Linked DNA regions of Homo sapiens: regions 2 and 3 are each linked to region 1. Evidence: fine-mapped expression QTL. A gene starts in region 1. Each other region holds a variant in brackets. All regions are shown on one strand. Distances are between the middles of the regions. Region 1 holds the start of CCT2 (chaperonin containing TCP1 subunit 2). Region 2 overlaps LINC02373 (long intergenic non-protein coding RNA 2373). Region 3 holds the start of SNORA113 (small nucleolar RNA, H/ACA box 113).

Region 1 (11,073 bases):
AGTTGATACTGGAAGCTGAGCTGATCATACACTGACCTGAAGCATTCATGAAAAGCTGCTTTATTGAATAAAGTCTGATTGGAGTTCTTTTCATGCTCACTTTCCCCTTATTGCTGAAAGTAGATTGCAATAAAACCCCAATAAAACGTTTGGTCGGATATCTACTTAAAAGTTTTATTGTATTTATATTTCACATACTACTTGAAACTTTGTGACATTTTCTTTCCTAGTCTCATATCACTGCCTCCATTTTCAAAATGAAGATATCAAAATGAAATTGTAACTATATGACAGGCTTTCTCACAGTTTTAGCTGTGTGATCATTCCAAATAGTAGTTCTCAGCTCTGGGACTTCAAACCTGTTTTTAGCCACTGAGTGACATTGCAAAGCCTTAGTTGAGTACAGGTCAAGATGGAAATTATTTAAACAATGAAGGAGATGGACATGTCCACAAGTGATTGATGTAACTGGCATGATAAAGACACACACAAAGGAAGGGCATCCAACTCAGCCTAGGGGTGGAGGTTTTCAAGCAAAGCTTCTTAGAGGGGGTGATCCCTGAGGTGGTTTGTTGAAAGTCTTTGTAGCTTAGAGAGGATGTCTTAGGGAGAAGGGATAGCATGTGCAAAGGCACAGAGGTATAGAAAGATCATGACATTCAGTGGTTGCAAGAGGTTCCAAATGACTAAGCGCATGGAGAGCAAAGGCAGGGTTGGGGGATACAGAAGAAAGGAGAAATGAGAAACAGATCACAGAATCCTAAGGAGCTTTTGTTTAAATTAGGTGAGAGAACTTGAAGGATTTTAAACACCAGAAAAATAATAGTTTAGAAAGATTTCTCTGACAACATGGATACGTGAAGGGCGCAGTATTTTTTTTTTTTTTTTTTTTTTTTTTTTTGAGACGGAGTCTCTCCCTGTTGCCCAGGCTGGATGGAGTGCAGTGGCGCCATCTCGGCTCACTGCAAGCTCCCCCTCCCAGGTTCATGCCATTCTCCTGGCTCTGCCTCCCAAGTAGCTGGCCCTACGGTATTTTAATAAAGCAGGGAGACTGGTTGAGAGGCTTTTTCAGAAATGGAGCCAGATCTGATAAATCCGTATTCAAAGGCATTGTTAAAGGACTGTTTAGATTGTTTACTGCTGTGCAACAAACCACCCTAAAAGTTAGTGGCTTAAAGCAGCAATCATTTAATGTCTCAAGTTGCTATAGATCGAGATGGGCAGGGCACAGCAGAGATGGCTCATCTCACATGATGTCTGGAGGCCTGGCTTCCTCATATGCTTTGTGCCTATGCTAGTATGATTCAAGCAGCTGAGGGCTGGCTGGACCAGTTCCACTAGGTTATGTCTGGAACTTAAAGCTCTCAGCTGTGTTCCTTAGTTTTCTTCCATGAAGTCTTGGGTCTTTCTTCATGTGGTCTTCTTACATGGCAGCTTAGGGTTCCCAAGAGCACAAAAGTAGATGCTGCTAGGCTTTCTTGAGGCCTAAGCCCAGAACTGGCACAATGTCAATTCTGTTGTATTTTGTTGAATTACAGTGGCTCATATAAAAGCATGAACATCAAAAGTGTAGTTTATTCAGGGCCACCAATGTAATAGAGGGCCTAAAGGAGGAAGAATTAACACCTCTGATTGATAAGGGGAATGACAGAAATGGAGGGGTCAAGGATGACCCCCAGTTATCTGGTTTGGGTGACTGAGATGGTTGATGGTGTCAGTTCATTGAGATTTAAGATATATTTGGGGGCTGGGCATGGTGGCTCATGCCCGTAATCCCAGCACTTTGGGAGGCTGTGGAGGGTGGATCACTTCAGCCCAGAAGTTTGAGACCAGCCTGGGCAACATGGTGAAAACCTGTTTCTATGAAAAAATACAAAAATCAACTGGCGTGGTGGTGTGTGCTTGTAGTCCCAGCTACTCAAGAGACTGAGGCAGGAGGATAGATTAAGCCTGGGAGGTTGAGGCTGCAATGAACTGTGATCCTGCCACTGTGGTCCAGCCTGGGCAACATAATGAGACCCTGTTTTTTTTTTTTTTAAAGTGCTCCTCTAAGTGTGCTCCACAGACTGATTCCTGTGTACAAACTATCACGGTCTGCAACAGGAGAAATATCAAGTCTTCTAACCTTCTCCCTACTACCCAAACAGTAGGTGTCTGGGTGGACCCAACTTAATGTGACTGTGGACTCCTGGTCCTTTATTTGGTTTCCTTCCCCAGGTATTCTAACTGTTCCTGAGGAATGTTGACAAGTCCCATAACTCTGTTCTGGTGGTTGTTTGCCACTTCGCCAGTTATTTCACTCCAGTTAATGAATCTACCCTTGCTCCCAAATCACCTCTAGCCATCAAATAATGATATGCTACAGTGCTTTCCTACTTCCATAACATGCCAAGCATATCCAACCTCGGCTACTATATTTATAAAGCCTATTAGAAGACTTGGGATATAATGATAACAATAGCTAAGCTAAACAGGCACTGTTCTAAGCTATTTAATCTGTGATAATTATCTCCATTTTACACAAAGGGAAATTGAGGCACAGAGAGATTATATAACTGGAAGCTGACCAGTTAACAAAAAGCCAATTCACTGAAAGCCAAATTATACCAAGGGGAAGAGAGAGGAGGACACAGGGTCATAGAGAGGAGAGGGTCACAAAGACTTTGAGGGAGGAGGAAGGGTTAACTAAGAGAAGCCAAGACCAAGGGACTTGAGAGTAGAGGACAGAAGATGAGCCAGGAGAAAGTCACACAACGTGTTTAATCACAGAAACATGGATTCCCAAGGTCTCACTATCTCCATAGGCCCTGTAACCTATCTAATACAAATTACGATAAAATGTATAAATAGATGGGCACAGTGGCTTCTGCCTGTAATTCCAGCACTTTGGGAGGCCAAGGTGGGCAGATCGCATGAATTCAGGAGTTCAAGACCAGCCTGAGAAACATGGCAAAATCCCGTCTCCACCAAAAATACAAAAAATTAGCTGGTGTGGTGGCGCATGCCTGTATTTCCAGCTACTCGGGAGACAGGTCGGAGGATCGCTTGAAGTCAGGAGGCAGAGGTTGCAGTGAGTGGAGATCACACCACTGCACTCCTGCCTGGGTGACAGAGTAAGACCCTGTCTCAATTAAAAAATATATATATAGGTGTGGTGGCTCATGCCTGTAATCCCAGCACTTTGGGAGACTGAGGTGGGCAGATTGCTTGAGGTCAGAAGTTCGAGACCACCCTGGCCAACATGGTTAAACCCTGTCTCTACTAAAAATACAAAAATTAGCCAGCTGTGGTGGTGCATGCCTGTAGTCCCAGCTATTTGGGAGGCTGAGGCAGGAGAATTGCTTGAACCCGGGAGGCGGAGGTTGCAGTGAGTTGAGATCATACCACTGCACTCCAGCCCGAGCGACAGAGTGAAACTCTGTTTCAACAACAACAACAACAACAAAAAAGTATAAACAGCTAAAAGAGACAGTTTTTGGTAAACCAGCACATTGATCACGCTCTGAATGGCCTTCAATGAACTGATTTAAAGAGCCTGTGAAACCCACCCAAGACTACAAAGCTAGTACGTAAAATGGTTGAAATTCAAACTCATATAGTCTGGGTCTAGAAGCTGAGTGTTTAGCCTCTAGGTGTAGAGGTGTCATCAAAGGAGGGGGAAGTAGGAAAGAAGGAAGGGTCAAAAGATGCAATGGAGAAAGGACACATTTCCAAGGGTCCCATCATAGAGTCTCTTCCTGGCTGCCTCTAGCCTCAGTTCCACAAGGTGGCAGGGCCTGCCTCCTTCTCCCCATCCAAATGCCTCTGGCTACATTCAAAGCCCAGCAGGGAGCAGTCATTGGTTTCCCCATCACACACAGTCTCAGGCTTGCCTACCAGAGGACATAATAAATATCTCCAGGTATGTAATTTTGCCCACAATAAAAACAACCTTTTTCAATATTGTGCAGGCATCTTAGTTTTTTATTGTGAATCTTCTCATTCCAGAATGCGATTTGGGATCTGCCTAGGAAAGTACATTTCCTGAAAGAAGACCAAATTTTCCTACAAAGAAGAGAAAACTCTTGGGAGATTTAAAATAACAATTTGTCCAGCCTGAACTCCCCTTTTCATGTTGGACCTGAGGAATACTGTAAACCAGGGTCAGCAAACTTTTTCTGTAAAGAATTAGATAATACATGTTTTAGGTTTTGTGGGCCCATTCAACCTGTCATGACTACTCAACTCTGCCACATAACTCTGCTATCGTATTGTGACAGAGTAAATATGTATGGGTATGCCCATGGATTCCAATGAAGCTTTATGGACACTGAAATATTAATTTCACAGGATTTTCATGTGTCAGGAAATTTTTGATTTCTTTCAACCACTTAAAAATGTAAAAACTATTCTTAGCTCTCAGGCCATACAAAAAACAACTGGCAGGCTGGGTTTGACTCCTCACAGCTTGCCAACCCCTGGTGGAAATCAACCCACTTAGAGGAAATCTGAAGGGTAGAAACAACTAAAAAATTGAAAATTCCTGTTAATGTTAGCAATGTCAAAAATCCAGGAGACCCCAGCTACTCAGGAGACCAAGGCAGGAAGATTGCTTGAGCCCAGGAGTTCCAGGCCAGCCTGGGCAACATAGAAGACCCCATCTCTAAAAAAAACAAAACAGAAAAAGAAAAATCCAGGAGCTTGTTTTGTTTTGTTTTTGTTTTGAGACAGAGTCTCGCTCTGTTGCCCAGGCTGGAGTGCAGCGGCGTGATCTCGGCTCACTGAAACCTCTGCCTCCCGGGTTCAAGCAATTATCCTGCCTCAGCCTCCTGAGTAGCTGGGATTACGGGCATGCACACCACGCCCGGCTAATTTTTGTATTTTCAGTAGAGACAGGGTTTCACCATGTTGGCCAGGCTGGTCTCCAACTCCTGACCTCAGGTGATCCGCCCACCTCGGCCTCCCAAAGTGCTGGGATTACAGGGGTGAGCCACCGCGCCCTGCCGAGGAGCTTAAGCGATCAGTTAGTCAAAGGGAGAAAAGAGGGTATCAGTAGATGACAGAAAAATTTTTTAGAGAACAAATTTTTAGACATCCGTCAACTTAGAGAAAGTAGAAAACTGTCTATAATAAACTGAAATATTTGGGACTGATCTTGATGTCTGCCAAGGTTTTGGCAGACATCAAGATCAGTCCCAAATATTTCAGTTTATTATAAACAAAGACTAATAAGTCGTCTCTACTATTGGAGGAAAAAAAAAAAAAAGACCGAAATGCAAAAATTCCTGAAAATGAGTAAATAGGGCAAAGATAAAATACTATAAATGTCTCTCTCAGTTCACAAGACCTTATCCTGGGCAGTCAACGTCCAGTTAGAAATAACGTCTGAAAATTCAGTAAGAGAAAAGGAAGTCTTCTTCTGTAATACTCAGTAAATAATGTTTAAAATTAACATAGCAATAATATTATCTGGGAATATGATAGTAAATAGCCCCTCCAAAAAACTGAAAAAGTTGAAAGCAGTTTTCCTGGAGACAGGAAGTGGTGAGGCAGATAAATTATGTTTTTCCTTATTGGTATATAACACTTTAAACTGTGTACATGTGTGACTTTAATAGAAGTGTTTAAAGATTAAATTTAAGAAAATAAAAAGTGTGAGCAAGAACTCCATTTCTATGGCAACCCGCGCGGCAGCCGCCTCTTTGTTCTGGAGCGGCGGCCACGCCCCCTCCAGTGTGAAAGGCTGCGTTTCCGGCCCGTGGGGCTCCAATCAAAATGGGACGCCTGCTGGCGGTAACGACAGGCCGGGGCCCCGCCCCCCGAAGTAGGGCGTGTGGCGTCACTTCCGGCTTCCTTCAGTCCGCTGGTCCCGAGCACGAGCTGTGAGGGGATTCACTTGTGTGCGGAACTCCTCGGAACCATGGTGAGCCTGACTCCCCTGCCTCTTGCCCTACCCCTGCTCCGCCGTGCTCTTGCCACCCCACTGCTTCCTCTGTCCTGCTAGGGTCGTAGGCTCCGTTTCTGTCTCCCCGGCCCTCCGCACATGGTGCGAGCCATGCGCGGGGCGTGCGGCCTGCGCCAGGCCAGCCGGTGGAGCTCACCACGAGGGGGAGGGGTGGACCGCAAAGCCAGCGTCTCCTTGTGCCTAGGTCTTTGCATAGTCCCGGCAGCCCAGGTCCGCGCCTCACCCGGAGCGAAGAAATTTCTAGTGTGGGACCCGCTCCGCCCTCCTTCTAGGGGCGGAGCCTGGAGCGACGGGGTCTGAGCCATCAGAGGGTGGAGGGGCCGCAGCCTTCCGAGGGTGGAAGATGGAGGCCGCGTTCCCTCGCCCGCCCGGCAGGCGTCACCTTGATGGCCTGCAACCCCTCCCTGCCTCATTCTTAGTTCAAGATCGTCTTTAGTCTCGCTGTACGTAACTGTCAATCTCGCTGGTGTATAATTTATACTCCCGGGGGCCTTGTAAATCCGAAAAGCCATGTCGCTCTCCTACAAGTCCCTCTCTCCCACTTAAATGCTTTCTCCGATGATGGAAGCTTCATTTGATTGAAAACATTGTTGTAAATGAGTTTTCTCTTAGATGTCCACTTGTAAGACTAGTGGAAGGCACCTCAGTGTATGTGTTAGAGTATTGGTACTTAAACGGAATGCCTCTTGGTTTTCCTTTTCAGGCGTCCCTTTCCCTTGCACCTGTTAACATCTTTAAGGCAGGAGCTGATGAAGAGAGAGCAGAGACAGCTCGTCTGGTAAGCCTTGTTCTAAGCATTGTTTTAAAGATAAAACTGGAGGCCAGGCGCGGTGGCTTACTCCTGTAATCCCAGTACTTTGGGAGGCCGAGGTAGGCGGATGAACTGAGGTCAGGAGTTCGAGACCAGCCTGGCCAACATGGTAAAACCCCGTTTCTACTAGAAATACAAAAATTAGCCGGGCGTGGTGATGGGCACCTGTAATCCCAGCTACTCGGGAGGCTGAGGCAGGAGGATCGCTTGAACCCAGGAGGCGGAGGTTGCAGTGAGCTGAGATCGCGCCATTGCACTCCAGCCTGGGCGACAGAGCGACACTCTGCCTCAAAAAAAAAAAAAAGTAAATAAAGATAAAACTGTACTTGAAGACTGTAAAGTTGATTCTGATAATCTCCTTGGTTTTTACTCCAGACTTCTTTTATTGGTGCCATCGCCATTGGAGACTTGGTAAAGAGCACCTTGGGACCCAAAGGCATGGTAAGAAAAATAGAAAAGTTTTATATTTTAATATTGTTTTAGAGCGCTTGGTGGAAATATAATAACAAGCGTATTAAAATGCTTTTTAATCTTTAAAACGTTTAATTATAAAAGACAAGTATGTTCTCCTTAGTAAAAATCAGAGTCCCCAGAATCACCATCCCCAATCCCATGCCCCTCCCCAATGACAAGTACTGTTATCATTTGCACGTACATCTTCTAATATTCTGTTTATGTAGAAGTATGTGTACTTCATTATGTATTTTATACTCATGTAACATACTGTTTTATAAAACAGATACTATTTATCAATACTTTTTTGTAGCTTGCTCTTTTAAATTCCTTTCAGTGTAAGTAGATAACACTGCCCCTTTAACTGTCAAATATTATCCTGTACCTTAATTATTTTATAATTTAATTATGGCTGTATTGATAGTTTCTTTCCATTGTTTTTGCAGTTACGGTGTTGAAACAAAAACTAGTGTCTACCTGTGCTTCTAGTGTTTCTAGGGGTAGATACATGGTTTGGTTACGTGGTGTATGTATTGAAAACATTTGATGAATGGATACCACAAAATAGCTATCCAGAGTGTTTATACACTAGCACTGTGTGAGAATACTGATTGATCCATGCATTCTTCAAGATGTGCTTATGTCTTAACTTGAACCAATTATGTTCCCTTTAGGACAAAATTCTTCTAAGCAGTGGACGAGATGCCTCTCTTATGGTAACCAATGATGGTGCCACTATTCTAAAAAACATTGGTGTTGACAATCCAGCAGCTAAAGTTTTAGTTGGTAAGTCTGAATATACTTTTTCACCAACCTAATAATACTGTTTGTTAACATTTTTGAAATAACTTTATAAATAGGCTGTGTTGACCAATCGTACTGTCAATTGATGTCCACTAGTTGTTAATTATCGTTGTTAAAATACAAGCTTCAGGAGTGCCCGTATGTTGGTGGTAAAACTGTTGCATTTCAGACCTCAGAGTTCCAAATAATTTGTTGAATGAGGAACCCTGGTAAGTTTAGATTGGTAGTGAATATTTTTGGAGAATTTAGTAAGCAAAGAAGCAATTTTGAGTTAATAACTAATTTCTTTTTCTAGATATGTCAAGGGTTCAAGATGATGAAGTTGGTGATGGCACTACCTCTGTTACCGTTTTAGCAGCAGAATTATTAAGGGTAAGAGCAACTAAGCAACTCTTTTTTCCTACTGTGTTTTTGAGTATCAGAGGTAATCTAGTCCTTACTTCCTCTGTCTTTACTATTGAGGAGTGCTTAATAATTTTCTATTTATAACTTTTGTTTTATAACTTTATTAATAGGAAGCAGAATCTTTAATTGCAAAAAAGATTCATCCACAGACCATCATAGCGGGTTGGAGAGAAGCCACGAAGGCTGCAAGAGAGGCGCTGTTGAGTTCTGCAGTTGATCATGGGTTTGTATAGCAAAGTACTACTGTTCTAAACATTTAGTGTTCTTTCATAACATGCTTAATGCAAGAAATCTATAGGACACTGAAAAGCATACACAAAGATCATCTTGCTGCCTCACCCCACTCCAACAGTCAAACCTACATCAGCCTCCAGAGATAGCCACTAAAGTTAAGTTTGGGTTTTTAGTCTTTTTGTATATATCATCAAAATATACAAATAAAGCAAATAGTATAATACTGTATAGAGAATTTGTTAGCCTCTTTTTAACCTAGTTAAATATTAAGCACATTTTTGGATGTCAATTTTCTGTGCAGTATTTTAATAGAGTTACACATTTGAATATTTGGCTAGAATGACTGTATTAACCTATCTGTAGGGGGAGATTTGTGTATTTGATGATTTTTAGCATTATAAAATAACTTTGTGACGTTGCGACATAGCCCAAAGGTTTCTAGAAGTGTAATTGTTGGGTCCAAAGGTAAGTGTGTGTGTTTTAAGGCACCCCCAAACCTGGGCTGCACAGCAGGTGAGCAGCAGGTGGAAAAATTGTCTTCCCATGAAACCAGTCCCTGGTGCCAAAAAGGTCCGGGACCACTGTTTTAAGGCACTTCTATTTATTTGCCCATTCACAACTGTATAATAATACTTGTTTTTCACGTCCTTTTATTTATTTATTTATTTTGAGACGGAGTCTCGCTCTTAGAGTTGCCCAGAATGGAGTGCAGTGGCACGACTTCGGCTGACTGCAACCTCTGCCTCCCGGGTTCAAGCGATTCTCTTGCCTCAGCCTCCCAAGTAGCAGGGACTACAGGCATGTGCCATCATAGCCAGCTAATTTTGTATTTTTAGTGTAGATGGGGTTTCACCATGTTGCTCAGGCTGGTCTTGAACTGACCTCAAGTGATCCATCCTCCTCAGTCTCCCAAAGTGCTAGGATTACAGGCGTGAGCCACTGTGCCCGGCCATTTCTCACATTCTTGCCAACATTAGACTTTTGCATGCTTGTGTGGCCCCCACCCCTCTTTTTTTTTTGGCATTTTGCCAGTTTGGTGGGGAAAATAACATCTTTAATTTGTGTTTCTTGATTACTGCTGAGGTTTAATTCTTTTCATATAGCTTACAGACTTGATCAGTTAGGGTAAAATTATCTATTGACATGAATATCTAGATAAATTTTGAAAAGTAAAGTAGGGTTAATATGTATATTTGGTTGGTTTTATTTAGTTCCGATGAAGTTAAATTCCGTCAAGATTTAATGAATATTGCGGGCACAACATTATCCTCAAAACTTCTTACTCATCACAAAGACCACTTTACAAAGTTAGCTGTAGAAGCAGTTCTCAGACTGAAAGGCTCTGGCAACCTGGAGGCAATTCATATTATCAAGAAGCTAGGAGGAAGTTTGGCAGATTCCTATTTAGATGAAGGTATGTATGAATGTCAGATACAAGAAGCTTTGATTAGATGCTGAGGGCTGAATACTGAGTGAATTCTGTTTTGAGACCAGTGACCCTTTACAAAGCCAGTGAACTTGAATTTAAGGACATATCATATGTGCAACCATTTTTGTCATTTTATTGACAGTGTACTCCTCTTCCCGCGCTATTCCAGCATTGTTGATGATCTCTAGAGTTTACTTAACTACCATGAAGTTATTTGCAGTCTCTGATAAAGAGGAAATGTTTTCTTTTACTAGAAATCATCTATTCTCAAATGGTACTTTTACCAGGATTATATGTATTCTCCAGGAAGGGTCTGGGTCAGTCAAATCATTGTGTTAGCTGGTTGTTGAGGATGTACAGTTGACCATTGAACAACATGGGTTTGAATTATGTAGGTTCACAATGCAGGTTTTTTCAATAAATATAGTCAGCCCTTTGTGTCCGTGGTTTGCACATGTGCAACCGAACGTGGATGGAAAATGCAGTATTTGCAGGATTTGAAACCCATGTATATAGTGGGCCAGCTTTTCAAATCTGCTGGTTCCAGTCAGCCTGGAACTTAAGTATGTGGGGATTTTGGTGTATGTGGGCGTCTTGGAACCAGTCCCCTTCGTATACTGGGGGATGACTAGTTTTTTTTAGAAAAGAATTAAAAAAAATTTCTTTAACAAATAATTATGTATGTTTATAGGGCAAGAGGATCTAGTTCTTAAAGAGTGATAAATGAGACATAATAAGTACTGCTTTCTTAGTAGTACATTTTTGTTTAGAGTGAAGTTTTCCAGATCATCTTCACATTATATTTACTTCACAAAATGGCCTGTCAAAAAGTATAGGCATTCTTATATAGAGAAGGAAAAAAAAAGAATTAGATGGTGCTTTACAACTTCTGTTTTTACCAGTGGTTTGGAGTCCTGGTTTTGTTCTGTGTCATAGGTCTTGATTTATTTTAAGAGAGAGTCATAATTCTGAAAATACTCTTGATTAAGTTTA
Region 2 (9,536 bases), 120 kb before region 1:
TTTATAAGATACAAATAATGGGGGAAATAGATTGGAAGGGCACAGGGAAATCAAATATTCTATTTTGACTATGCTAAATTTGAAATGTGTGTGACAGAACAAAATAGAGATGTCAGATAAGCAGTTTGAATATAGTAATCTGGGGCTTAGATGAAAGGTCTAGTCTTGACATATACATGTAGATGTCATCAGCATGAAGCATTAGAAAGTGTATGAGATCCCTAAAGAACAGAGTAAATGTGGAGAAGATAGAACGATATTCAGAAACCAAGATCAAGGCACTGGGAGTGCTCATCGTTACTATGGCATTGCTTCTCTGAGGCTGCCTCACTAACTGAGCTAGGGAAATACATGTATGCATATACATATGTACATATATAGGTATTTTCACATATGCATTTATATACATATATGCATACATGCATTTACATCTATGTTAATTAATTAATTTATTTATTTTTGGGACGGAGTCTTGCTTCTTTGCCCAGGCTGGAGTGCAATGGCTTGATCTCAGCTCACTGCAACCTCTGCCTCCCGGTTCAAGTGATTCGTCTGCCTCAGCCTCCTGAGTAGCTGGGATTACAGGAGTGTGCCACCATGTCCTGCTAATTTTTGTATTTTTAGTAGAGATGGGGTTTCACCATGTTGGCCAGGCTGGTCTTGAACTCCTGACCTCAAGTGTTCCACCTGCCTGGGCCTCCCAAAGTGCTGAGATTACAGGTGTGAGCCACCGTGCCCAGCCCTATGTTTATTCTTTATATCTGTCTTTATATATTGAAAACCATAAGTTCACACTGATAGGTTCAATTCTAATCCATTGCCACAGGGCTTAGTCTAGCTTTCCCCTTCCATGTTTACACCTCTTTTCTCTGACAGTGAGCAACTTGACTGTCATTATCCTTAATATTCTGCTAATTTGCTTAATCTCCCTGCATGTTGCCAATTTCCTGACACCTTTAGGCTGCTACCTTGCTAGAACACTCTTCCTACGCAGGCCTGGCTCCCATGAGGCTGCCTTCCGGCGAGAAAGGGAGGAAAGCTCACTTTCCTTATTTAGGTTCTGCACATTAAGTATATTATTTGGCATTTTATTTGTTTTGTTGCTATTTTGAATAAGCATTTCTTTTTCACTATATTTTCTGTTCATTGCTTGTATTTGAAAAGACTACAATGTATAGTTTCATTTTTTCATATTTGCCTATTTGAAGTGAAAAAAGTTTGTATTTCATTACTCATTGGTTATTAGTAATATTGAACATTTTCAAGTGTTTATTAGCCATTTTAATTTTTCCATGAACTTTCTGAATCCTTTGCCTTTTATTCTATAGAAATCTTTTATTACTTTTTTAAAAAAATCAACTTTCTTGAGTTCTTTATTTTTATTATTATTATTTTTTTTTGAGAAAGGGTCTTGCTCTATCACCTGGGCTGGAGTGCAGTGGTATGATCTCGGCTCATTGCAGCCTCCACCTCCTGAGCTCAAGTGATCCTCCCATCTTAGCCTCACAAGTAGCTGAGCCTACAGGCATGGACCACCACATCCGGTTAATTTTTAAATTTTTGTTTACAGATGGGTTTTCATCATGTTGTCCAGGCTAGTCTCAAACTCCTGAGCTCAAGCAATCTGCCTGCCTCAGCCTCCCAAAGTGCTAGGATTAAAGGCATGAGCCACCAAGCCCAGCCTTGAGTTCTTTATAAATTCAGGATAACTGTTGCAAATATTTTCCAAGTTGACTGTTTTAATTTTTATTTTTTTTAATTTACAGAATTTTGATTTTTCATATAGTCAAATGTGTTGATCTTTTTCTTCATGATTTATTTATTTTTTTTTCTTTTGAGACAGAGTTTCTCTCTTTTTGCCCAGGCTGGAATGCAATGGCATGATCTCAGCTGACTGCAACCTCTGCCTCCCAGGTTCAAGCGATTCTCTTGCCTCAGCCTCCCAAGTAGCTGGGATTACAGGCGCCTGCCACTACGCCCAGCTAATTTTTGTCTTTTTAGTAGAGACGGGGTTTCACCATGTTGGCCAGGATGGTTTCGATCTCTTGACCTTGTGATCTGCCCGCCTCAGCCTCCCAAAGTGCTGGGATTACAGGCATGAGCCTTCGTGCCTGGCCACTGTGATTTCTTATACTATGTTTAAGCTTCGAACTCCCTTTCCTATCCAGAGGTCAGATATTCACCTATGCATTACTTTAGCTAAACATTTTTAGAAAATTTAAATTTTAACATTTTATCCATCTAGAATTTATTTTATTACATTTTTAGCCAATTTGTGGATAATTTGAATATATTAGGAATATTAATCTTTTGCCTGTCACAATTGACGCAGCTTTTCATTTGCCATTTTAACCTATTTCATTTTGATTTATCCCCTTCTTGTTTTTAAGCTTAGAATGACTTCCCCTATCCAGAGACTTAATAAACATACACTTACGCTTTCTTTTTTCTCTTTTTTTCCTCTCCTCTTTTTCTCCTCCTCCTTCTTTTTCTTTAGCATGTGCCTCAAGGCCAGCTATAAGTAAAACAGAACCCCTAAACTAGCCCCAGATCACTTTGGTCTCTTGGGGGTCTTACAGACCAAGCAATACGTGGGATTGAGGTGGATTTTTCTAACACACACTCCCCTCCCTTTCCCTCCTACATAAAAAGCAGTCCAGTGTTGAACTTCCCAATAAGTGTATGTATACCTGACAATTCATAAACTGCTGAAGTGAAAGGTGGCCTTTAGATATTCCGTATATAAATTTAGCCATTTATACAGAGGGAATGAAAAAAAAAGTGGCCTGATTCTGATCAGATGCTGCTTGTTTCTCCTTACACCACAGGGTTCTGTTCTATGTCATTTCCTTTGAAGTCAGTGGGAACTCTGTGCAGGACGGCAACATGAACACCGGCCTCTATACATGAAGGTGAGAACTGCCATTACGATAAACTATTCAGCAGTGTGGTGGAGGGAGCATTGGTTTAACACACTTGGTGGCTACCCTGCAGATCCCACTGTCTGTGAGAGCTTTGTTCAACTGGAGCAAACAAGAACTTTTTGAATCTTGACATACAAGGGCTCATTCAGCAGAGCATCCCCTGTTATGAGAGGAGGCACAGTGCTGGGCAGACATTGCAGTTTTTAGCCAGCACACTGAGGACATTTCTCTCATTCTCTCCATCTGTAAAGAGTCTGTTTTCAAGACCCCCAAAATGGTTTTCTATAGATTAGAAAGGAGTATAAATATTTTTACATGTTTGTACCCAATTACACAAAAAAGAAGGCAAAGTGCAATTGTATAAAAGTAGGTAGGCCTTTTCAAGATGGAAAGAAAGAATTCTTTGAAAATTTTAGTTGAAGGGGTTACGTGATGAAAAGCAGAGCTCATAAAAGAAACAATGAAAAAAACTTTGACATGGAGAAGGTATTGAAAATGAAGAATCATGTATATTTGCTTTCTATCTCAGGATCATTATTTTATTCACTGGTCAACAGAGTCTTTCTCCCTCCACTCCTTGTCACAATGGCTTACATGCCATTTATTAGAAACCTGAATCAAACGATGCTTCCAGGTTATTAGTCTACAAACATCTGAATGAGTAGAAGTTAAAGAGCAAATTGCCCAAGGTGATTTTTTTTCCCTACCCATCCCATCGCCGGACTTTGCAGTGGCGGTGCACCCTTCCTGATTCCTTCATCACATCATTCTGCTCCTGCCTCTAGGCCTTGACTTGAGCTGTAGCATATACTCAGCTTCAAGCCTCCTCACTTACAAGAACCCCTCTGAGGGCAGTACACTAGTGTTTTGTATTTGTAATTTGTCCTATTGGATGGCATTGGTGGAGCAGGCATTTCCAACTTACAGTTTTGAATGCTTTCTCAGGAAATGTGTATCCATCTCTGTATATAGAATACTTTTTCTTTCCACAGGCCATCAAGTGGTTAACATATAGACAGTATTTAAATCCTTGGGACTGGATGAGATTACCAAGGGAGGAAATGTAGATGAAGGAGAAGAGAAAGGATGGAGTTCTGGAGCACTACAAATTTAAGAGACTGGGGAGAAGAGGAGAAACCCAGAAAATCTACCTTGGAGATCACTGCGTAATACTACACTGGGAGCAGTATCATTCTTTGAAATAATAATTATAATGTAATATAATAGTTATAAACTATTCCAGTGTGTGAACATGCCCTTTATTCAAGCAGTTCTCTACCAGTAGCTTCTTAACTGGTCTTCCTGCTCTCAGTTTATCCTTACTCCAATCCTTTGTAAATACTGCTTATGCTAACCTTGGATTAATCTTAGTTATTTATGCCTGCATGAAAAATGGAAAAATTGGACACATATTGCATTTATATAATGAAATACAATGCAGTTTATTAAAAATCATGTTGAAAAACCCACAACATAATGTTGAATTAAAAAAACATAATCCCAGTCTACACACACACACACACACACACGTGCACACACATAAATATATGACCAGAAATAAAATGCTGTACATTTAGCCATCAAAGTTTAACATATTTATGGATGATGGATTTCCAAGTAATTTTTATTTTCATTTTTTATTTTACTATTATGTATGTATGTATGTATGTATGTATGTATGTATGTATTTATTGAGACAAAATCTCACTCTGTCACCCAGGCTGGAGCGCAGTGGTGCGATCTCGGCTCACTGCAACCTCTATGTCCCAGTTTCAAGAGATTCTCCTGCTTCAGTCTCTGAGTAGCTGGGATTATAGGTGCACGCCAATTTTTATTCTATTTTTGGTGGTTTTCTGTGTTTTGCAAATTTTCTTCATAAAAAAAGAAAGATTTTTAGAAAGCATACTTTAATCATGTTGCTTCACGGGAAACCAGCTTTGATTCTTTACTGCCTAAAAAGATAATGTCCAAATATCTTAATTTAGTAGTGAAGGCCCTTCAGAGCAGAGGCCCAACCTACTTACTCAAAGTTTTCTCCTAGTTGGCACAAACCCTTTGTTGCAGTTAAAAGGATCTGCTCAAGGTCTGCTAGATGTGCTTGGTACTTTGCTGCATCTGTACTTTTTTTTTAATGCTAGGATCCTTTTCATGTCCCTTATTTTCCTATAATTTCCAAAATCCTTTAAGACATGATTTAAGTTCTATCTCTTACCTGAAGACCATGAGTGAGGGACGAGGTCTCCAAAAATGAATGACTCTGTTATTCATTTAGCATTTACCACAGGATCCTTAGCATTATTACGGTTCTTTTTCTATGAGCCCATAACTTATCTCCCTAACTGGCACTTTTAAGCACTTAGAAGACTTGTTCTGTAACTTGGAGTTCTTGGTATTCCCCTGACCTCCTATGCATATTGAGTATGCAATAAACATTTGTAGTAGTTTAGATCCAGGGTTATTTCAAATAAATATAATTTTTGAAATTTGAAATAATTCTGGATCTCTCTTTCTCTATGCGTTCTATGTGCATTGAACTTGCTGAAGGAGTAACAGATTTTCAGCAGTTAATTTCCTATAAGGGAAAAATTTAAATAAACTTAATTATAAACTATTGCTTAAATATTTTTCCTGCACCAAAGGTCATTGGTTATTTTTGCTTCAGGGAACGTTCTCTTTTTACTGTCTCCTGAAATACAACTGAAATACAATGTAGCTTTCCTTTTCTTCTTTATTCCCTGGTCCCAAATATAATCTCCACATGTGCTCTATCTTTGTAGGTGAAATACTTCCTGCCTCAGTGAAATCCGGCTCCCAGTGAATTTCTTTGGTTTAGAGAGCAACTTGAGGATTTTGCATTTGGCACCATTCAATTTCCTTGGCATCTCTCCATAGTCACCATTTAGAAGGCTCCTGGTCAGTAGGATTTCTCTCCCTCTTACACTCTGTAGAGATTAAAAAAGGATTGTATTACAGGGGCTTGGAAATGTGATGGAAAATGAAATTTGCTTTAGCAAAAATGGAAGCTTTTGAAACTCAAGTTGTTCTAACAGGACCCTTAGACAAGAATAGTTTTTAGGGGAGCAAAATGGCAGATACGGTTTAAGTTCCTTATTTAGATTGCCACTAAGAAATATTATGATGTGTAAAATCACTCACTCAAATAAAGTCATTTGCAAAACAATATGATTACATTTATGTATTTAAAAATATTGGTGCATACATACATATAAAGCAAGCTTGGATTAAGATCTTAAGACAGATCGTGGCCAGGCGCGGTGGCTCATGCCTGTAATCCCAGCACTTTGGGAGGCCAAGGCAGG[C/T]GGATCACCTGAGGTCAGGAGTTTGAGACAAGCCTGGCCAACATGGTGAAACGCCGTCTCTACTAAAAATACAAAAAAAAAAAAAGTTAGCTGGGCATGGTGGCAGGCACCTGTAATCCCAGCTACTTGGGAGGCTGAGGCAGGAGAATCGCTTGAACCTGGGAGGCGGAGGTTGCAGTGAACCAAGATTGCACCATTGCACTCCAGCCTGGGGGACAAGAGCGAGACTTCGTCTCAAAAAAAAAAAAAAAAAGAAAAAAAGAAAAAAGAAAAATCGTAAGCACTAAAGAGCTTATGGTCCATAGTAAATATTATTTTACTGTTTAATTTAAGAATTTAAACCATGTTAAAATTAAATTAGTATAAGGAAGTCCTAACAAGCTCTGATTTTTTTTTATATCTATGCATTTGTAAAAACACAAATTTCTTTTTTTTTTGACACGTGTATAAGATCTTTATTATCAAAAGTTTCTCTAAGAATTTCACTTTGGTAATTTTTTTTCATATCTCATTGAAATTTTAACCACATTTTCCTCCTTCTATTTTGTAAATTACTTAATAATGATTGAAAAACACAAAATTCTTTAATTTTTTTTTTTTGGTGGGGCCAGGCACAGTGGCACATGCCTGTAATTCCAGCTACTAGGGAGGCTGAGGCAGGAGGATTGCTTGAGCCCAGCAGTTCGAGATCAGCCCAGGCATCATTGTGAAATTTCATCTTTTGGGTGCTTTAAGCACATACTTTCATGTTTCCATTGGGTTTTCTTTATATGAATATAAATGCACTGATAAATGCCTGGAAAGCAACACACCGAATCATTTATAGTGGTTACATCTGCAGAGAAGAATGGGCTGGGGCATGGGGAGTATTAGTGATGAAGAGGTACTTTTAAATTTTACCCAATTTTTTCCTAATAATCTATAATAAAAATGTAGCCATTTATTACATGCACAATGATTATAAGGAATAAAAATAGCTGGGCACAGTGGCCCATGCCTGTAGTCCCAACACTTTGGGAGGTTAAGCAGGGCAGATCACTTGAGCCTAGGACCAGCCTGGGCAACATGGCAAAACTGTGTCTCTACAAAAAATATAAAAATTAGCTGGGCATGGTGGTGCACGCCTGTAGTGCCAGCTACTCAGGAGGCTGAGGTGGGAGGATCGCTTGAGCTCAGATGATCAAGGCTGCAGTGACTGCACCACTGCGCATCAGCCTGGGTGGCAGAGCAAGAACCTCTCTCCAGAAAAAAAAAGAAAGACTAAACAGACTGGGAAAATGAGAATGAAATGTCTCACCTTTCCTTTTGATATCAAAGTTCAATATTAAAGAGCTTATATTTGATGAATATTAACATGGTAACCTAGAGGGCAGTACCAATTATTCTCCAAGTTGAATGGATTGACTTACTATCCAATAACATGGCTAGACTGCTGCCTATTATTTTTTTTTTTTAGATATTGCTGCAAGTCATCACCACTGCTAATGTTCACTGAGCCCTTATAGTCTGCCAGCCACTAGTTCAGAGTTCTACATGTATTAATGTGTTGAACTCTCACAAAAATCCTGTGAAGTGGGTATTATTATTATTGTAATTTTTATAGTGAAGAGATAGAGGTTGGAGATTAGCTGTCTTGTATGAGCTGGGTCGCACAGCCAGCAAGTGATGAAACTGAGATGTGTCACTGGCAGTCTGACTTCAGATTCTGCATAGGAAAGAGGAAGGGAGTAGAGCCAGTCTGTGGTTTAAGATTTTTATTTGATTTAATAGTTGGTATATACACTTTTGTCTAACTGGAAGGTGACTAAAGGCATCTGGGTCTGGTTGATGTGCTGGTTGAAAATTACTATTATTATGAGGATGATTATTATAGTATTTAGTAATTATGCAGTGCTTTATACTTCAAAGAGCTATGCTGTGTAATCATTTATTAGCTATGTCTCACAACATCTCTAAGATATAAAGATGCATTTATCATGCATATTTTGCAGAAAGAGAAGCTGAGGCAAGGTAAGATGGGCAGTGTTTTGATAAAAAAGGAGTAAGAGTGGAAGGCAACCTCTTAAATTCCTGATACTACGTAATTCAATGTGGACAACAGAAATTTAATTAATTTAAGCCTTTTAAAGAAAAGTGCCAGTTCCAGTACTTTTTCATGATATTTAGTTAAAAATTAAATGTAAAATATACCAAAGGTTGATGAGCATTCCCTTTTAAGTTCTCTATTTTTGAACTTTCTCTGCATTTGTGTCAATGTGACATTTTTGCTCAAATTCAACCTTGACATCTCCCATTTCTCCACGCAAGCAGGATTTGACTAGAGATACTGGTTTTCACTGTCAGTATTATATGGCTTCAAATTTCTTCCGTTGTTTGTGAAACCACGTGCATAGGATTCGTTATGATAACTTTCAACAGAAACAAACTTCATGCAAGAACTATATGGGAATTAAAAGAAGTTTTAGACATGTGGCAGTTTGTCCATTTCAAAAATGATTATAAACATGTCAATATGAGGGGTGGGAGAGGGAAAAGGATCTATGTGGGTTTATTATAGTGACCTGTAAAAGGCCTGGAAGAGATTTATACATTCTTCTATAAATCTGGTTGTCTCTTTCAGTTGGGAGGCAGTCATGGCCATGGCACATAGAAAAGGATCAATAAATATTAGTTTAGTGGTTATGAGTGTGTCTCTGGGGACAGACTGCTTGGATTCTAATCCTGACCTCATCATTTGCTAGCTACCTGAACTAGCTTTGCTTGTGTCTCCATCCAGGAAAAAATAAATTAAAAAAATATATATATACCCTATAGGGTCGTTTGTCATCAAATCTATTTAAGTAATTGCTATTATTCATTTTTTGTCTTTCCAAGGCTGTTGACAAATAACATTAGCTACAACTCCATTAAAACGTTGGTGGTAATGATATTTATAATTTGATGTCTGCACTTGCCTTGCTTGTTTAGAAATGGTACAACGTGGCCAGGCATGGTGGCTTACACCTGTAATCCCAGCACTTTGGGAGGCTGAGGCGGGCATATCACCTGAAGTCAGAAGTTCTAGACCAGCCTGGCCCAACATGGTGAAACCCGGTCTCTACTAAAAATACAAAAATTAACCGGGCATGGTAGTGGGCACCTGTAATCCCAGCTACTCGGGAGACTGAGGCAGGAGAATCACTTGAACTTGAGAGGCGGAGGTTGCGGTGAGCTGAGATCGTGCCACTGCACTCCAGGCTGGGTGACAGAATGAAACTCTGTCTCAAAAAAAAAAAAAAAAAAGTACAGTGTA
Region 3 (11,073 bases), 73 kb before region 1:
GGTGTCTACTTCTTCTTTCAAGCCCTCTATTATCTTCCCCTTCTCTAAATTTACAATTTCGTAGTTTACTTCTTAGTCATTTCTCTGTTTTGTATTGTTCATGAATTGTTTTAATGTCTTAATATTGGCAGCCTTCTATGGTTTGAATGTTTGTCCCCTCCAAAACTCATGTTGAAACTTAATCCCCAATGTGGCAATATTGAGAGGAAAAGCCTTTAAGAAGTGGTTAGGTCATGAGGGCTCTGCCCTCATGAATAGATTAATACATTCATGGATTAATGGATTAATGGGTTATCACGGGAATAGGACTGGTAGCTTTATAAGAAGAGGAAGAGAGACCTGAGCTAGCATGCTCAGCCCCACCACGTGATGCCCTCTGCTGCCTCAGGACTCTGCAGAGAGACCCCACCAGCCAAGAAGGCTCTCACCAAATGCGGTCCCTCGACCTTGGGCTTCCCTGCTTCCATAACTGTAAGAAATAAATTTCATATCTTATAAATTGCTCAGTTTTAGGTATTCTGTAATAAGCAACAAAAAACACACTAAGACACAGCCCTACTACAACATACTTCTTACCCCCTCTCCTACACTAGTCAATTTCAAACTCCTTGAGTGCAGGAGGAGTATGCCTTTCTTTCTGTCATGTTCCGACACATAATAGGCACTCAGTGATAAATACTTGGCATTTTTTTTGGTTGTTATATCTCTGACTATGTTTCTGTCCTGTTATATGGGTGTGCAATGTAAATAATAAGACAAATATTATTTTAATCTTTTTAAGCTTTTATAATACTTGTTTAATTGTTTGCAAATTTGTTTTATAGTTGACACATGAAATCCAGCAACTCTGTGTTGTAGATCAACAGAGCCCATTAGTACTGCTGGGAAAGGAAACCAAGGCCTCATAGCTTTTCTCTTCATATGAAAAGAACTTCATTAATTTTTAAAAAATTTAATAGACTGTGATGTAGTTTTAATCTCATGGTTTTAATCTTGTGTTTTTAAGCATTTTCCTTTTCTGGATGAGGTTCTTGGTTTTGACTGTGTAGAAGTATGTTAATTCGATTATATTTAGTTGATGAATTTGTGCCCCTAAGTATGGTACTTAAAAAGTTGCAGCCGGGCCCGGTGGCTCACGCCTGTAATCCCAGCACTTTGGGAGGCCCAGGCGGGCGGATCACCTTAGGTCGAAAGTTCAAGACCAGCCTGACCAACATGGAGAAACCCTGTCTCTACTAAAAATACAAAATTAACAGGGTGTGGTGGCACATGCCTGTAATCCCAGCTACTCAGGAGGCTGAGGCAGGAGAATTGCTTCAACCCAGGAGGCAGAGGTTGTGGTGAGCCGAGATCGCGCCATTGCACTCCAGCCTGGGCAACAAGAGCGAAACCCCGTCTCAAAAAAAAAAAAAAAAAAAAAAAAAAAAAAGTTGCTGCAGTGCTGCAGTTCTTGCAGATAAGATAATAAGATTGTTTACTGTTTTCTTTGCATATTTATTCCTGTGTGTATTTTTCTGTGAGGTAGCCTTTCAGTCTGTCCATTTGTATCATTTGACATTCAGACTTAAATCAACTCTACTATTGCTGGTGTTTACAAATGCTAGTCATTGAAAATGTCAAAATTTGGATTTGACCCAAGAGTTGCAAATAATGTAAGCTTTTATAAAATATATCCAAATATCTATTCTTAGGGAGAAAGAGAGAAAATACGGCATTTAAGGAGTGGTTTTTAACAGTTAGGCTTTAGAATTGCTACATTCCCAAAGTATTTCTCTAGTGAATGACATACCAGTTAATGAATTGTTCTACAAGAAAGGCATCTATTATGATTGGCCTCACTATTACTGGAAGTCCTAAGAATTAACAGAAATTAATAATGATAGTTGGAAAAAATGTATACTCTGTAGACAATTTTAGATCTTTTAAACAAAATCTTCTGGTTACCTTTCTAAATTAAATTTGTATTTTAAAATTAAAATGATATTTGTACATGTGTAGTTTAAAAAGTCAAATTGTATTACAAGGCTTATGAAAACAGTTCCCCATCTCTCTTCACCTCCAATTACCAATCTTTACAAGGCAGTCAGTTTCCGTTCTTTTAGTTATTTGTTCTGATATTTGTCTTCATTTTTCTAAGTCAGTTATTCTGCTTTTTGTTGGGTTTTCATTTTAGATAGTAGCTACTGACTTCCATCTAAGAAGGATGAAGATTAGTTATCTTAATCTCTCTACTGCCCACAGGCTTTTATACATACTTCCCTTTTTCTCATCTTTATAGGGTATCAGATTTTGGGGGTAGTTTAGTGTTTATTAAGACTATGCAAATATTTTTCACAACTGAGTCACAAAATTCACTAATTATATTTTGTTTTTCCAGATAATTATCCCAGTTTAAAATTTTTTTCTTGTTATTAATTCATTTACAATTATTTAACAAATCTGAAACAGCTCTTAATATGGTTGGACACATTAAGTAATCTGTCATCTCCATTTTCTCCTGGGAGATAGTCTACTGCATCCTGAGCAGAATTTCACATAATTTTCCTCTTTTTCAGTAAGACATTTTGTCTTGCTTCAGTTGTGACTTGTGTTCCTAAGATTGGGGTCTCTCATTCACCCTCTCCAGAGATGCATCTCCAGACTCTTATCAGGGATAGGGAGAAGATTGGTTTTCAGGGGGAGGCCACTTATAAGAATTTTCAGCCAGTCATATGGTTTCCAGCCCCATCCTGTGTTTTGTCTTCACTGTCCCTACAATACCTAAATCTTTCCAGCATGAGTCAACTTGCTGCTGCTTTTTTTGTTAAATTGTGGTAAAATATAATAACAAAATTTACGGCTACAACCATTTTAAAGTGTACAGTTCCATGGTATTAAGTACATTAGTGTGCAATAATCACCACTATTCATCTCCAGAACTTTTTCATCATCTCCAGCTGAGACTCAGCACCCATTAAGCAGTAACTCCCCATTTCCCCCTCCCTAGCTCTTGGCAACCATTATTCTACTTTCTGTCTTTATCAGCTTGCTTCCTGATGGCTTCTCCCTGTCAGGTTTAGGTTTCAACTTTCTTGGTCTTGATAGGTTATTCTTTTCCTTTTCTAGCTTCCAAAATGATGTTGATGACTCTCATTTGCTGTTGTGTCTTTCCCAATTCTCCTCATCCTTATGGGCTTTATACTTCTAAAAACTCCTATAACTTTTTAAAGCGAGGTCTCAGGAAGGGTCAGTCATGCTTTACATCCACCTTTCCCCTCCCAGCCCTCATTCCTTTGTTATTGTTTTTAAATTTAGGTTTATTTTATTAAGAATTTATTGGGAATTTACAGGTATGCCAAACAAAGGCAATTTTAACAGCCATGTTAGCTATAAAATTAAGTGTGATAAATGGACTTGTCACTGGCTTCTATTGTGTTTGTAGGGGTTTGATTCTGCAGATCTGTGGCAATCTCTAGCCCCCTCTTTCTCTCCCTAGCATACCTCATGTGGTGCCAGCTGTCCTAAGCCATATTCTGTGCTTCTGCTGCAGCACTTTTCATAGTGATAACCTGACCCATCTGTGGAGAATGATTTTGAGAGAGAAACTTATAGCCAGACACATTAAAAGTCTGTTATTCAAGTTACAATTGAGCTGTTTCCTTTCTGTGCAACTTCTCTGAGTGCCCTCGGTAGAGTTAATTACTCCTTCTGTGTCTTGACACTTGTGAATAATTCTATTTTATTCTGTCTCCGTTACATCTGTCTCTGTACGCTAGATATCTGTATTACAAGATCTGCCTCTTTCTTCCCTAAACTGTTTTCAAGGTTTGAAAAATACATATTCTGATACAGTTCTTGGCCCATGATAGATAATAAATAATTATTTACTAAATAAATAATCCATCCAAATTGATTGAACACCCTATTTTCTGGCAAGCGTATTGTCATTGTACCCTTTATCACTAATGTCCACTGAAAGCTGTGCCAGAAACTGTATTTGCTTTTGCTTGTTACTTGGAGTCAATAATGTGTAGTGATTAGGCGTGTGGCCAGAATGTCTTGGTTCAAAGAAACAAGCAAGTTTCTTTATCTTCTGTTTCTTTGCCTGTGAAATAGAGACAATAATAGCTAGCATGGAATGTGGTGAACATTAAATTAATACATCTAAAGTGCTAGCTCAATACCCTGCACATTGTCTTTATAGTGAATCTGTTTTTCATCTTTATGGGATACCTGCTATAATAACATTAGTACCTGTGAATAAAAATCAATGTAAAATGAAAAATCTAGTTAGTATTTAAAAGATTTAGCCCTTTGAAGCTCTTTGAACATGTTCTGAAATTATCTTCGTGGACAGTGTGCCATTTAGATAATAAACTGGGAGAAGTAGTATCTTTCAGTGTTACATACCTACTAAAATACTGTATTCTTTAAATATACTATAAGGTATCCAACTCTTTTAAACATATAGAGATACTTTGAATGGCAGTGCCAGTACTTGTGCTTTTTTTCTCCCTGAGGAGGGTTTTATGCAGCCCATCAGTAAATTTGATATTTGGCATCATTTGTCTTCTCATTTGAGAACCTGCAGGATTTAATTCTCCCCTCAGAGACTGTGTGCTAAGGGAAGGGAAACCTCCATCATTCATTAAGCAGTCAATGAATACTTGCTTATGTACTAGATGTTTTGGACACAAGGGAGAATAAGACACAGTTGTTTTCCTAAAGGGACCATCATCTCTTCATCATTTCAGTAGTAATAAAATCAAATGTTCCGGCTGAATGTGTGCACACTCTTTGACCCAGAATTCCATTGATAATGTTTTATAAATGGAATAAAAATGTACAGAAGTGTGTGTAGAAAGTGTTCATCAAACTGTTAATTATAAAAGCAATAAAAATATCAGTTTTAGTATATTCATTATATTTCCCACAGTTTCAATTAGAAACGTGATATTACTTAATTAAAATTTTGTTTTAAAAAAACTCTGAACTGGTGGATTTACATGGAGATGAATAGAGGATTAGGTCAGTCGTTGAGTTCTATGATCCATTACAAAGGAATGGTAAACTGCTCATATCCGTGTTAGGGCCCCCATTTCTTACTATATATACGACTGGCTAGTTGGTTATTGAAAATTCTGTAAATCTTGTTTCTTTTCTTCCATCTATAAAATGGGCACAGTGTTAGTAGTTATGAAGTTTGTTTTGAGGATTAAATGAACAATGTATGTAACCTAAAAACAAAAAATACCTCAGTAAATATTGGCTGCTCTTATTGTTCCTGTTTTTCTCTATACTCTTTATCTGTTTAATGAGTTTTCTCTGCAGCTTTTGTTCAGTCAGTCTCAACCAGGGATGACAGTGTTATATTTAATCTGACAGCTCCCATTGCTTTGTAACAGAGGTTTCTGAAGCCTTTGCCAGACTCCACAGAGCTGTCACCTGTTACCTGTGTCTGCCAATTTTGAAGGACGAGAAATAGCAGTACATGTGTCTTAGGTTTGCCTTCCTTGCTGTAAACCTTTTATCTCTTTATACACACCCTCCCTCCCTGTTCTCTTTTGGGTTTCATGTACTTTTTGATCTTGCACCTTATTTTAATAGGAGTCTGTTAGCTCATCTCTTTTTGGCGGGGGAGGGGAATATTTTGACTGTTACTGTTATTTCATAGCATAAATTACTCTTTATAACAGGGTAGTAATTCAGAGCTAGCCTTAGGACCTTTTTAGCTCTGCTTCTTCTAGGCTTCTCATAAAACACAAATATAGCTAGTTTGTAAGACTTATTTGTGCAAGCCTCATTTAAGAAAGAAGACCTGGATCTTGTATGAACTTTTTCCTTTTATTCCCTTGAGTAGAAAGCTCACACTACATTTAGTATAAGAATCAAATGCAGAAGAACTTTTTTCTAAGGGATTGTGGTATCTTTATAAGGTGAGTGGATTGTGACCAGAAAAGAATTTTTTTTGTTGAGTTGCATACACTTAAATTCATGGTGTTTAGGTATATGTTCTGAGGGCATGCAGTAAATAACAACTTGTATATTATAATTGATGGTTAAGAAATAGCCCTTGGCACATATGCAAAAATGATTTTACTTTATAACACATCCCGGGCATTACCTAGAAATGAAGTTATAGACACTATAAAAAGTTTTCACTTTCCTTGATGGCTTTTTCTGTACTGATGGGTCTAGAGTATTTATGAATTATCATAAATCAGAACGTTATGTTAAAAAGAATACAAACAGTTGAAATCACTTGCTTTGGATTTAGTATTTTCTTGTTATTTTAAATTCAGGAATCATGCCATATGGTATTCAGTTAACTTCATTTCAGTTAACTTTATTTTGAAGGGCAAAAGGAAGATGTCTTAATGACATCATTCAGCTAGGAATCAGAAGATAAGTTCCTTGGGTAAGTTGCTCAACTCTCAAGGCCTCAGCCACTTGTAAGGTGTAATGTAGCTCTAATGCATGAGCATGAACCTTGAAATTCTGTGACTTCTCCTCCCGCCCCCAAATCTCTGGCAAAGTTTGGAGTTT[G/GT]TTTTTTTTTTTTGACCTTTTAATACATTGGATGTACATTAACAACAATATACCTTTCCAAATTCTTCTTTCTTTTTTCCTAAATTTTAATCTGAAAAGATTTGCTTTTTTAAACTCTCTTTTTTTTTAGGTTGGCAGTCAACAATCACCTTTTTAAAAACTATGCTTGATTTTGTTCATATATATATATTTTATTCATTAAAACATAGTTTCAACCCCATATGGTAACTGGCTCCTGAGAATAGGGAAACTAGTCCCCAAGCTTCAGCCTCCCCACAAACCTTGTATCAACATTTTTACTGATGAGTAATAAAATTAACAGATTTGAGCTGTAACATTCTGAACACTGGAAAAAGCATTACTGAACTGTAAAATAGACCTGCAGAGAAATCTGGCAGAGGAGGAGGAGTGTGCGTTAGCCTGTGACAATGAGGCACTGACTTACTATGCACTATTTTAACAGAGAATTGAATAGTTTTGCTATTTAGATATTTTACTGAGTTATTTTTTTAAACAAAAGAGGAATATATATGGTTTTCTGATAATAATTAAAAATTTTTTGACCTAAAAATGACCCTTGGGGGTGGGGCTCCTCAAGTGTAAAGCTCCTGCTGGGAAGAAAATTGTTGGGAATACATAGGTTGGTTTTAGGCATGGTGGAATCATTTGTTACCTCAATGAAAGCTACTCCTTGGATAGAGTTGTTTTCCTGTGATATCACTTCTCCTTGACAGTGTTCCTTTGAAATAAATCTAAATCTGCCTAGATATTTCTCACTTTCTAAATTAAGAAAATAATTATCTATAATTTATAAAAATAAAATTCGAAGTCTTCCCAGGATAAATCCATTGGTTAAAAGCAAACAATACTTTTTGAGTTTCTTTGGAGAGATGGAAAATTGCTTTTTTTTTTCTGTGTGGGTGAGGCAGGTGAGAATAGATTTCGCCCCTGCATGATGTCAATCAGAATTTTTGGTTAGTAAAAACCAAATCAAATATGTTTTAAAAGGAAATTGGGTAGAGCTCAGTGGCTTATCAAATTGTTGTGAGGGTTGGAGAACCAGATTCAGGGCTAAGCAACCAGAAACAATGCTCCAAATCACATTGCATAATTCCCATGAGGATGCCAGTACCATCTAGAGACAGACGGATGGATGCCACAACCTGTCCCAGCAACACTGCTGGCTCTGGATGACTCTAAATGCTGCCACCTCTGCCCCAGACTTGACCTTGCTGAAACTGCTCCACCATTAGTGTGAGAATGAGCTCCTTCTGCTCTCTGCTTCTGCTCACTAATTCGCTACTCTGGGATGCACATGTGTGTTTGGCAAAACATGTATCCTAGATGTATGGGACATGTGGGAAAGTGTTTAACCTTCTGCAATTATAAGACGGGAGGATGGCCAGATGCAGTGGCTCATGCCTTTAATCCCAGCACTTTAGGAGGCTGAGGTGGGTGGATCACCTGAGGTCAGGAGTTCTAGACCAGCCTGGCCAACATGGCGAAACCCCATCTCTACTAAAAATACAACACTTAGCCAAGCGTGTTGGTGTGTGCCTGTAATCCCAGCTACCTAGGAGGCTGAGGCAGGAGAATCATTTGAACCTGGGAGGCGGAGGTTGCAGTGAGCTAAATCACACCACTGCACTCCAGCCTGGGCAACAGAGTGGGACTGTGTCTCAAAAAAAAAAAAAGATGGGTGGAGTTCTCAAGAACTCCAAGCTGTAGAACCAGTGTTTTACCTTCTGAAATCATATGGCAGGAGAAGTTCAAGCAGACAAAAAGAATAATAGATGTTCACTGCACCTGATGTTTCAGATAAAATGTGAAGCCCTCAATATGTGCCACCATGCTAAATGTTATACAAGAATTATCTGTGTCATCCTCACAACAAACTTGTTAGTTTCATTTTAGAGATTAAAAGATAGACCAAGAGCAGGTAACCTGCCCAAGATTGTACAGTTAGTGATAGCAGTGTTGGGATATAAATTCAGAGCTATGACTCCAAAGCCAGTGCTAACTACTTAATTAAACTGACTTTTAATGTCTTTTCTGTCCTGATGCATTTAGCTCAAAATTCTGTAAATGAATCTGTTAGATTGAACCTACTATGTTTATTAAGATTTTGTGTATGGCATGTTTATGTGTTTAGGTAGTTTAAGGAAAGCTGAAAGTTTCTGGCTTTAATTTTTTCTATTTTCAGCTGATGATTAAATAATTTCTTATTCTTTTTCTCACTTTGTGACTATTTTTATAATTCACTTTGCCTCAGACTACAACCTGATAAAATGCTTTGTTTCTGAATATCAGTGCTTAGAAATGAGTTACTGAGTGTGAGAGACAGGCTGACATAAAAGGAGAGGGGATATAGAGTGACCGAGACTGAGGGAGGAAGGGAAAAACATCCCTCGCGCTCTCTTGCTGTCTCTCTCTCTCACACACATACACATACTCACACCCACTCCTCGAGAGGGAGAAACAAAGACAAATACATGTGGAAGAGAGGGTATGCACACACATTACCCTGAAAGCAACATTTTTAATCTTTTGTTCCCTCTAATGGTGGGTTGAAAAACAATTAAAATTTTCCCTTTCTGTATCAGGAAAGTCATTGAGGTCTTTTTTTTTTTTTTTAAGTTTGAATCTGTGCTTTCCCTAGAGTAAACAGTAGATCTTAAGCCTCTCTACCAGTTTACATTTTATATTGGTTTATGTATTTTTAGTTTGACCGCCCCACCCCCACCCCCACACACTGCAAAAGGTGTCATATCTAGGAGAAATAAACAAGAACTGTTATTTAACCCCGGGAAATATCCAGCTTGGTTTGGGCAAGAGGAAATGGTAAAGACAAACTCCCATAGTTTCTGTGATGTCAATTAAGCTGGAGTATTTATTCGTAAACCACCTCTCGTTAATTATTACTTTAGTACAAGTCTGTCCTACAGATTTTTCTATACTTCCCAAACAGTATTTCATAATAATGTTATTTTATTCACTTGTGCCTTTAAGACTAAATGGGCAGATATATTTTTGTAAAAGTGAGTAGATTATTATTATTATTATTATTACTATTTTTTTTTTTTTTGAGACGGAGTTTCGCTCTTGTTGCCCAGGCTGGCGTGCAATGGCGCGATCTCGGCTCACAGCAACCTCCGCCTCCCTGGTTCAAGCCATTCTCCCGCCTCAGCCTCCGGAGTAGCTGGGATTACAGGCGTGTGCCACCACGCCTGGCTAATTTTGTATTTTTAGTAGAGACGGGGTTTCTCCATGTTGGTCAGGCTGGTCTTGAACTCCGGACCTCAGGTGATCCACCCACCTCAGCCTCCCAAAGTGCTGGGATTACAGGCGTGAGCCACTGCGCCCGGCCAAAAGTGAGTAGATTAAGTGCCCTTCCACACACATGCTCTTGTAGACCGTCTGAATGTGGGCTGGGTGCTAGAGATGTGCTTGATGTAAGGTAAATATCCATGAAATTAAAAGTGATTTGTGTTCTGTTTAAATATTAAATTGTCAACATTGAGTATACTATACCTTTTGTCCTTATCTCCATCTGATCTTTCCTAGCATATAACTTTTAATATGAGAAATGTTATTTCTTTATAATTTTTTTGTTTTAATCCAGTACTAGCTGTATAAAATGGATTTTTGCATAAAAGCAGTTGATGTTATATATTCTTCTATTCTGCCACTTTTAAGATTTATGCTTCTTATACAAACTTTTTAGTGAATCAGTTTTGAAATGAGCAGTAGTCCATTTTTGAAAACAGTGTTGGCATATATAGACTTAGGATCCCTAATCCAAAAATTTGAAATCTGAAATGCTCCAAAATTCAAAACTTTTTGAGCACCAACATGATGCTACAGTGAAAATTTCACATCTGACCTCGTGTCATGGGCTACAGTGAAAACACAGGCACACAACACACAGCTTATTCATCCTCCACAAGGGAAAAAAGACCCTCCCAGCCCTCACAGCTGTAGTTACCTTTTCTGTGTGCAGAATGATGATAGTGCTAAACCACCACAGATTGTCCACGTGGGTGGCTGAGATAGCAACACCTTTGCTTTCTGATGGTTCAATGTATATACAAACTTTGTTTCATGGGCAAAATTATTTAAAATGTTGTATAAAATTACTTTCAGCTTATATGTATAAGGTATATATGAAATGTAAATGAATTTCATGTTTAGACTTGGTCTCATTCCCAAGATATCTCATTATGTATATGCAGATATTCCAAAATCTGAAAAAACTGTGAAATTCGAAACACTTCTGGTTTCAAGCATTTTGGATAAGGGATACTCAACCTGTACATTTTTTTTTTTTTAATCTTTAGGGGCATTTGCCAATGGTGAATCTAACTAATCATCTAGATAAGAAATGGTGTGTGAGGCCAAAGCAGTGATCCACTGACCCTAGACTGTCCTAAAGAGCCACACCAAGGAAACAGATTTCTTACTGGAATTCTGCCATTCCTAAAGGGCACATAGGCCATTTCTAATTTCCTTTAACTCATAATTCATGCATTTATTTAAACTCTTCAGCAT

The links.
Region 2: its variant is fine-mapped to the expression of CCT2 in whole blood (TOPMed, PIP 0.93).
Region 3: its variant is fine-mapped to the expression of CCT2 in whole blood (INTERVAL, PIP above 0.99).

Annotation. Positions count from the first base shown.
Region 1 is chr12:69,579,623-69,590,695 of GRCh38, forward strand. It overlaps CCT2 (chaperonin containing TCP1 subunit 2), which reads left to right and starts at 5,837. Exons shown (of 16, transcript NM_006431.3): 1 at 5,837-5,902; 2 at 6,648-6,722; 3 at 7,131-7,196; 4 at 7,883-7,994; 5 at 8,308-8,384; 6 at 8,528-8,640; 7 at 9,863-10,065. The coding sequence starts at 5,900. It overlaps MIR3913-1 (microRNA 3913-1), which reads right to left and starts at 5,201; the gene lies at 5,100-5,201. It overlaps MIR3913-2 (microRNA 3913-2), which reads left to right and starts at 5,101; the gene lies at 5,101-5,200. It overlaps FRS2 (fibroblast growth factor receptor substrate 2), which reads left to right. Exons shown (of 9, transcript NM_001278356.2): 9 at 1-171. RefSeq lists an enhancer at 5,868-6,207.
Region 2 is chr12:69,456,689-69,466,224 of GRCh38, forward strand. LINC02373 (long intergenic non-protein coding RNA 2373) reads left to right here. Exons shown (of 3, transcript NR_185917.1): 2 at 2,829-2,912; 3 at 3,917-6,105. Among named protein-coding and RNA genes, the nearest start is that of FRS2, 8.9 kb to the right of the region's middle. The variant C/T (reference allele first, on the strand shown) is at 6,245.
Region 3 is chr12:69,506,626-69,517,698 of GRCh38, forward strand. All of the region lies in intron 1 of FRS2 (fibroblast growth factor receptor substrate 2), which reads left to right. It overlaps SNORA113 (small nucleolar RNA, H/ACA box 113), which reads left to right and starts at 8,815; the gene lies at 8,815-8,968. The variant G/GT (reference allele first, on the strand shown) is at 6,526.